2 separate regions of the Homo sapiens genome follow, and region 1 is linked to region 2. The links come from fine-mapping of genetic effects on gene expression. Tissue or cell type: unexposed skin. Region 2 holds a variant in brackets; the other region holds the start of a gene. All regions are shown on one strand. Distances are between the middles of the regions.

Evidence for each region.
Region 1: MOXD1 starts here. The variant in region 2 is fine-mapped to the expression of MOXD1 in unexposed skin (GTEx, PIP 0.97).

The regions. Positions count from the first base shown.
Region 1 is chr6:132,398,964-132,403,358 of GRCh38, forward strand. MOXD1 (monooxygenase DBH like 1) reads right to left here and starts at 2,512. Exons shown (of 12, transcript NM_015529.4): 1 at 2,200-2,512. The coding sequence starts at 2,463. RefSeq lists silencers at 2,216-2,265, 2,396-2,565, 2,586-2,725.
Region 2 is chr6:132,328,402-132,332,796 of GRCh38, forward strand. MOXD1 (monooxygenase DBH like 1) reads right to left here. Exons shown (of 12, transcript NM_015529.4): 5 at 14-193. Among named protein-coding and RNA genes, the nearest start is that of MOXD1, 71 kb to the right of the region's middle. The variant A/G (reference allele first, on the strand shown) is at 2,477.

The DNA of each region.
Region 1 (4,395 bases), 71 kb after region 2:
TATTCACTTTTTGGTATAGTTGCTGAAAATACTCTTCTCACACTAGTGTATGAAGAACCTTAAATAAATAGTTTCTAGAGAGGAGACTGAATTTCGAGCGTTGGAGAATGGAATCATTCAGCCTGAATAATAAAACTGAAATTGATACATTTATTTCATTTATATTATTTGGTGTATTTCATCTTATTAAACAGATTTTAAGTTAACTGTCTTTCCATTTAATTGAATAGCATAATTTTAATGCATTTTATATGTCCTAAAATGAGTAGAATGTTTATGGAAATGGAAGGTAAAATATGTCAGCCAAGTAAGAAAACGATCATCCTTTACATGTAAAAATGATTTTATTTCCTTAGGAATAAAAATGGACGGGAAGTCCTATTTATTGCTCATTAAATGTATTGAGAATGCAGCCAGTCATAATTTATCTCATAGTGATGTGTATTCACTAATTACTTTAAGAAAATTTCTATGTTTCAAAATCAATCTAAAGAGTACTTAACTAAGTCCTATGCAATCTCTATGAAGAACCACAAACAGGGTGAAAACACTGTAGTTTAACCAAGTTTATCTTTGTGGTGGGCCTATTATGGCATGTTGAATCAGAATTCTACTCACGGCTTTTCATTTGACATACAATTGGCTGGGCTTTCTAGAAATGCTACTCTTTGAGGGAAAATAATATGGAGTTAACATTCAAAGTATGTCCCATTTTATAATATTAGCATAGTAAGAGTTATGCTCCCTTTTGTAGAACATGCAAGGATAGTTAAGGGGCATACTATACTCCTCTCCCTAAACGGTAAAATTTCTTTTTTAAAAAACGTTAAATAGGTATTTAAATAAGGTATTGTCTACTTTATATTACAGGAGAATGAGTCATTCCCCTAGTGAGGCCTGCATTTGTGGTCAAATACTTGGTTCATAAAGTTAATGTCTGAGATGCTGCAGGAGGAGAATATTTATACATCAGTGACTTCAGCAGAATGCAATCCTCATAAAACTTTATTTTATTGGAGTTGTAAAGTTACTTATTTGGGGGAAGAAACGATTAATTTATGAAAAAATAGATAATAGAGTGGTTTTGAACTTTTTATTGTTGTCACTTTATTTCCTTCCAGAGTTAACAGCTCAGTGCCAGAATCAGCGTTCAAGTTTGATGGCATATTTCAGTCGAAAAGAACCTGGGGATAAAATTACTAAGAAGCGCACTCTAAATCCACGGAGAACACTGATTTAAATACTATCAAAGCCTTAATGCAATGCCAGAACAATTCGGAGTTTTCATCTGGATCAAGACTTTTAGCAAAGGGCAGTATGTTCGGATGAATTTTTATAATAACAAAGCGTGTACGTTCACCGCCATCCAAACGTTGGTCACGATCAAGCAAGGATGTCCAGGAAACCTAGCCACCTAATCATTCTGGTCATCTCACAATCTTCTTCTTCCTTTTTTTTTTTCTTTCTATTTAGTAAAGCACCCATGAACAGGCAAGGTGGTTACTTAGGCTCCTTCAAAGTAAATCAGCAGCGGTCAAATTAACTTTATTGGTTATTAAAGTAAGCCAAAGTTTTGTCACTTCATAGGATATTTTGCCTGGGGACCTTCGATTTTGGTCTCTAAATGTGGCTTCCTGAACAGCTCTCGGAATAGGAAAGTCCCTAAGCGATTCTTAGGGGCCCTTCATTCTTCTGGAGAATGGTGTAGCTGACATCAGCCCCGCGCCTGGAGGCTCCCAAATAGCCACGATTTGGGAAGTTCTGAGATTTCCACTCCTAGACAGCAAGTCCGCGACGTACTAAAGCGCTCTGTCCCTTCCCTCCTCTGAGAGCTGTCCCATTAGGTCCCCAAAGCCAAAGCCTAGGTCCTTCTCCCTTCCCATCAGGGATGAAGCGGGGTGTATTGCAGGTGTGTAGGCGGGGGGGCGTCTATTAAGTGGGGCGCTGGGGACAGGAAAGTGTTCAAAGAAGGAAACCTGCCTGGGGTCATCCGTGCTCGGCTTCCCTACCGCGCGCCTTCTGGGGCTCCGGGAGAGCAGGCGCTGCCCGCGGAGGCGAGAGTGAGCGTGGCCGGGGGCGCGGGGCTGCGCCAGGTGAGAGAGAGCTGCGGGCCCCGGGGACGACCCGCACCTGCGCCCTCTCTGGGGTCCGGACGGGACCGGGCTCGGCCGGGCGGGCTCCGGGAGGAGACGCGCTTACCTGGAGGTAGGGCCGCCCGTGGGCCACCCCGCCCACGACGATGTCGGCGGACGCCATGGCCCCGGTGGGCGAGAAGCCGAAGCCCACGTAGCCTGCAGTGCGCACCTGGAGGCGGAAGGCGATCTGGCTGCCCCGCTGGCTCCAGCCCAGCCAGTACTTGCCCTCCGAGTCCAGGAGGGTCCGGTGCGGATAGGTTCGGCCCGAGCCCCCCGCCGCCGTCCCGGGGAGCAGCCCCCACAGCAGGAGCAGCGGCCAGCAGCACATCCTCGGGCGCCTCCTGCCCGCCGGTACCGGCCTCCAGCCGCTGGGGAGTGAGGAGCAGAACGAGGAGCGGCAGCGGCGGCGAGCGGGAGCCCAGGGACCGCCCCTCGGGCCGGCCGCGCGCCCGCCCGGGAGGGGCAGGACCCGCTCTCCCCGCCCCGGGCCGCCTGCAGGGCGCGCCGCGTCCCGTCCGGTCCCGTCCCGTTCCGTCCCGTCGGGTCCCAGCCCCGCCAACTCTCACCCTGCCCGGCCCTTCCAGCGGATCCACTTGCAGCCCCCGACCCCTGACTTGGTCCCCGAGGTCGGGGCTCGGTGGGAAGGAAAGCGAGGGGCTTCCCGGAAAGAAAGGGAGGAGGAGGCAGGAGGAGGCAGACGCCGAGAGAGGAGAAAAGGAGGCCAGAGGCAGAGGGAAAAGGAGGAGGGCAAGAGAATCCTAGAGCGGGAAGAGCGTGGGCTCTGCGGGACGTGGGCGAGAGGTTACCAGGGAAAGAATGGACATTGACGGCAGAGAGCAAGTTTAGCCTGGAGAGGAGGAATTGAGTGAGCAAAGGGGGTAGTCTGGGGTGCGATGCACAGAAAGGCCCGTCCAGGGTAACCTTCACGTCTCCGTATCCGTTGCTGTCGACTTTCCAGAGCCTTTGTTCCCAGTGACGTCCCTATTGCAATGGAGGGACACACTTCACTTTCCCCAGCCCCCCACCTCGAGAATTTCTCTCACCCTCCCACCCTGCGGGGCCGCAGAGCTTGCTCCTCACGGCAGGAGTTGGAGCCCTGACGCTTGCCTTCACCTAGTTTTTGTTTGGTTTGGTTTGGCGTTGATGGGACAAAGTCAGCCAAACTACTTTGCCATCAGCAGAGAAGGTAAGGGGTGAATTGTCATTTGAGAGTTATATTTTAATTTAACATTCTCTTTTCTTGCTATTCCAAGTTCTGGCCATAACCATGTTTGTCAAAAGTTTGTTTTGTTTTGGTTTTGCCTCTACCTTTGACCACTCCTGTCTTTAGAATGCTAAATACAAATATGGCCACTAAAATTTACCTTGCTTATTTATTCCTTTATTTATGATCTGCCAAGTTTCCAAAAAAGTTCGAAATTTTGTCTTTATAAAAATACAAACAATGCAAAATAGAAAAACAAATAAGAGAGAATATCAGATGAGAAATATGGGTAAGAAGAGCAAGCTCCACACTAGCCACCCTACACTCCTCATTCTCTCTCCTCACCTCGTATTTCAGCCTGTTTTTCCCCCTGCCTATCTTTTCCCATAACTTTTCCAAAGTTACCGTCATGCATCTAATTTATATTCTTCTAAGGATACGGGAATATTTGATCATGTCTGGAAGGTGACCTGTAGGTGGATCTGCTTACCAAAGTGCTCAGGGACTTGCCTGGGAAGGGACTTTTCCCAAGGAGAGATTGGATCAAGGTCCGCAGGGCTGGCCAATGGCAATAGGCCAGCATCAGAGAAGAGTGATGTTGGAACCGCAAAATAAAATGAGAAATAAAAGAGCCTGCAAAGCCTTACAAGAACTGGGCATGGAGACTATGAAATATAAGTAGCTGGTGCCTCACCTCCACCAGGACCCACTGGGCAAATGTCAAGGGCAGTAACAGCCATACAGCAATGTAAGGGTGGCAACCTTAGAATTGGGTTTTTACAAGCACCATACCAGGGACGTGGCTTCAGCCATGAAGAAAGGAAGGGGGATATGGAGAGAAAGAGGAACAAAATAGGGGGAATGGAGTCCCAGAGGAGTGGCTCATGGCACCGGGTGGGACACACTCACTATCCTCTCACTATCCTGGGCAGGGATTTCAGGGAAGTTAAATTACTGCAGAGTGACTAAAGGCAAACTTTCTGTTTTGTGACCCTACTTTTATTCCTAGTGTGGAGGAACCTGGAACAAGCACATTGCTACATCTGCTTCCTGGGG
Region 2 (4,395 bases):
TCATTAGCCCCACCTCTCCACCAATAGCCCAGGCAAAAATCACAGTTTCACAGGTGAGGAATGCATCGGGCATGTTGGGGTGATAGCACTCGTGGCCGGACTCCAGAACGCTGTCGTTAAAGTTGTTGCTGCACTGATAGAGCAGGATGTGGTGCACCAGACTCTCATGGCCTCTCTGTATCACTGGCTCAACCTACACGAACATAAATGAGAGGGAGGACACAATAAATAAGACCACCCTACAACATCCCACAACAAACGTGAAACTAGCATAAATTACTGTCAGTTTCTCAAAGGGATATTCTTCTCAATTATGTCAAGGTTGTGTAGTTCAAGTCTAATTTGTTCTGGAGACAGTGACAATGGTAAAGATATGATGATGACAACGGCAACAACAAAGATGAGATAACCATTTAATCCAAGAAACAGGACTTTACTAATCGGCTTTTTTTTTGGTTGTTAATTCACTGTCCTGTCCTTTGCCCATTCTGCAGAGCAATTGTTTTGAAAATTGCTTGCTTTTTTCCAGGTTTGCTCTTCCTCCTCCTGCCTCTCACTTTTTTTTAAATTTTTATTATTATACTTTAAGTTCTAGGGTACATGTGCACAACGTGGAGGTTTGTTACATATGTATACATGTGCCATGTTGGTTTGCTGCACCCATTAACTCGTCATTTACATGAGGTATATCTCCTAATGCTATCCCTCCCCACTCTCCCCACCCCACGACAGGCCCTGGTGTGTGATGTTCTCCACCCTGTGTCCAAGTGTTCTCATTGTTCAATTCCCACCTATGAGTGAGAACATGCGGTGTTTGGTTTTCTGTCCTTGGCGATAGTTTGCTGAGAATGTTGGTTTCCAGCTTCATCCATGTCCCTACAAAGGACACGAACACGAACTCATCCGTTTTTATGGCTGCATAGTATTCCATGGTGTATATGTGCCACATTTTCTTAATCCAGTCTATCACTGATGGACATTTGGGTTTGTTCCAAGTCTTTGCTATTGTGAACAGTGCCGGAATAAACATACATGTGCATGTGTCTTTATAGCATTTTTTTTTCACATAGAAAAAAAGAAGTCAAGGCTGTGGGCACAAACGCTCTTAGTCTCCCTCTCTTCCACCTCAAAATGTTATCTTTACCCATCCCTACCAGTGGTGAGAGGTGAGATCTCATTTATCTCTATAAATGCATGGTGCTGAGAAGAAGGCTAGGGCTCAATCATTTTTACTGGTGATTTTATCATCAATGAAATTCAAGAAGAATTAAATTGTAATCTGACCTCCAGATTACAAATTGAGGGTATAGCCTAAAATATGAGGATTTCCTAAGAAAAAAAATCCACCCATGAAACAACAAGGAAACTTACTGCAAGTTTCCTTGCACATTTTATTTTTATTTTAATGATTAAGATCAAAAGCCAATAACAATTTTATTATTAGAATTTGGAAGAGAAAAAAAACATTGTTAGCTATGTGCGCTTGTGACACTGCTCAAATTAAAAGAGGAAAACTAGAAACAAGTAGAATGGGCAGTGAAATTGGTCCTAATGTGGAAAGCGTGATCCACATGAATGTGGTCCTTCCACTGTTTGCTCTGTTAGTTCCCTTCATAACACTTGCCCACTTTAGTCCAAGAACCTAGGAATCAACTCAGAATGAGTGAAGCACACCCTAGCATCCCAGAGATTCTATATGCAGACCAAATGGAGCCTTGTACTTGGTGTAGGTGGGCTGTAGGTGTTGCATCAGTTAGAGCAGGGGTCCCCAATCCAGTACTGGTCCGTGGCCTGTTAGGAACTAGGCCGCACAGCAGGAGGTGAGCAGTGGGCAAGTGAGCAAAGCTTCATCTGTATTTATGGCTGCTCCCCAACACTCACATTACCTCCTGAGATCCACCTCCTGTCAGATCAGCAGTGGCATTAGGTTCTCATAGGAGTGCGAATCTTATTATGAACTAACTGTGCATGTGAGAGATCTAGGCTGCGTGCTCTTTATGAGATTCTAACTAATGCCTGATGATCTGAGGTGGAACAGTTTCATCTCAAAACCATCTCCCCCATCCTCCAGTCCGTGGAAAAACTGTCTTCCATGAAACCAGTTCCCTGTTACCAAAAAGGCTGGAGACCGCTGAGTTACAGGGTTCTTTTTTCTTTCCCCTCAGAGTTCTTGGAATCTTTGTTCAGCTGATAAAGTAGCCCTGGCGTGTTGCTAAATATCCAAGAGTTTAGCCTTAGAGTTCATCAACACTTCTGTGTTTAGTCCTAACTACTCAAATTCAGGCACCGCATTTTAAAATCCTTGCTTGCTCTCTACTTTCAGCATGCACATTTACATGAAGTGTTTTCAGCTCTTTTCTCCTATGGCTTTGTTTTCCATTTTCTCCACAGTTTTTCTCTTTTCTGTAGGGAAATCTAAGCAAGGGGGGAAATGGTATGTAGTGGGTCGTGTCTGAATGGGCAGCCAAGAAATTCC[A/G]GTTTTTAAATCCAGTTTTCTTCTGTGTTACATAGCGAGTCATGCCACACCTAAGCCTCAGGTACATTTTCAACATCACATTCATGGAAAAAACATTGCACACGGTTTTGTTTGCACTTGTTTTGTCTCTAAAAGGTCGTGTGGCCTGAAGGCAGAAACTTTTCTATTTTGCTTGAAAAGGGTAGTTATCGTTCAAGCATGGTTGCATAGTAACAATGATTGCACAGAAGTAAAACCCAGAATTTCTATAAGAATTTCATTTTTATGTCTAGTTTGAGCTTCTGTCTGAGACTTGACGTTTTTGGGTTCCTCGGTCCTCCAAGGGGGACAGGGCACTGCTAAGATGTCAACAGTAAAATATTCAGGCACATGTGAGATTTTTGCTAAATACCTCATAAATTCAGGCAGAACCTTAAGGTTGTACTGAGCTCTGTAAGGTAGATCTTGGGAAGAAGCCATTAGGGCAAAGGAGAGTTGGTTACTGTCACGACAGTTTCAGAAACTAGTGGCCTTCATTGAAGTAGAGGAAGAGGGAGTGAAGGGTGTGTGATGCTGGGTGGTGCTTGACTTTGGGGAGCTTCAAATAAACAGCTTGAAAGAAACTTTTAAGAGCAAGTGCTTTTTTTTTTGTCTTCATAGGAAGTGCTAAAACTAACACCAAACTGCAAAGCTACCAATTTATCCCTGGAATAATAATAACATCTGTCTTTTATTTAGACCTACTATCTACTAGCCACATATGAATCATTCTATGTATTTCATTTAATATTTACAACAAATCTATAAGAAAGATGTTATAATCCTTATCTTACAGATTTACTGAAACTCAGAGATTAGACAACAAGCCCAAAGTACCACAGCTGGGAAAGGGTGATGGGATTTTAAACCAGGCTAGTGTGACCCCAAAGTCTGTACTTTCCTACGGCTACACATTATTGTAGGAAGCGTGTTGGAGATGCATCAAGGACCCTGGAAGTTGCTGCCGGTGGGAGGGAGGATGAAAGGCTTCAGTAAGGCAAGTTGCCGACAGCTGTCATCAACAAGGGTGATGACCTCAGGAGCCAATGCCAGAAGGTACTTCTGGAAGCCACTAGCAGGGACCACCACATGCAGATGCCCTCAGAGGTGCAGTGCCAGACTGGGAGTCTTACACCTGGGGAGGGGGCTCATGGCCTCCCTGCCACTCCAGTCCCAGTGCCCCTTGGCCTCTAGGATGAGAAGACAGACCCATGGCCTTTCAAGGTGTTCCTTCTTACAAAGGGCAAATAACAAGGCTTCTCTTTGAAACTTGATGAGGGCTTCAAGAAGAATTAAACTGTAATCTGACCTTCAGATTACAGATTGAGGGTGCAGCCTAAAACATGAGGATTTCCTAAGCAAAAACACCAACCCATAAAACAACAAGGAACCTTGCTGCAAACTTGGGTACTGATCACGGGAGGAGAGGATAAAAAGGCTTGGAAGAAGCAAGCCCTTGGCAAAATAGAAAGGATGTGAGCAAAGACAGGGAAAAAAAGAAAGAAAAAGAAGTGCTTGGAAATGACATGTAAGGATAAATATAAATTAAGAAACTGATAATATGGGAGAAAAAATTACCTGACTATCAAACTCCTGAAAAATAGAAGAATAATTTCTAGAGAGGAAATTTTCAGACCACCATGGGGATATTAAGTGAGACACCAAGAATGTTCCTTAAGGATGGACATAACTTGTTTAGTGGAGGGTACAACTTGAGGAAATGGGAGTACTTTGATCAGTGCAGGACAGGGCCATTGGCTCAAATGCTTAGCACAGGATAGGATTTCCCACAATGCTTCACGCCATGCTTACAAAGCCTGATCAAGCCAGGGCACTGCTACCAATCCCCTGATGGAGGCTGCTCGTTATTTTCTGCTCCCACAACAAGTTCTACAAACATT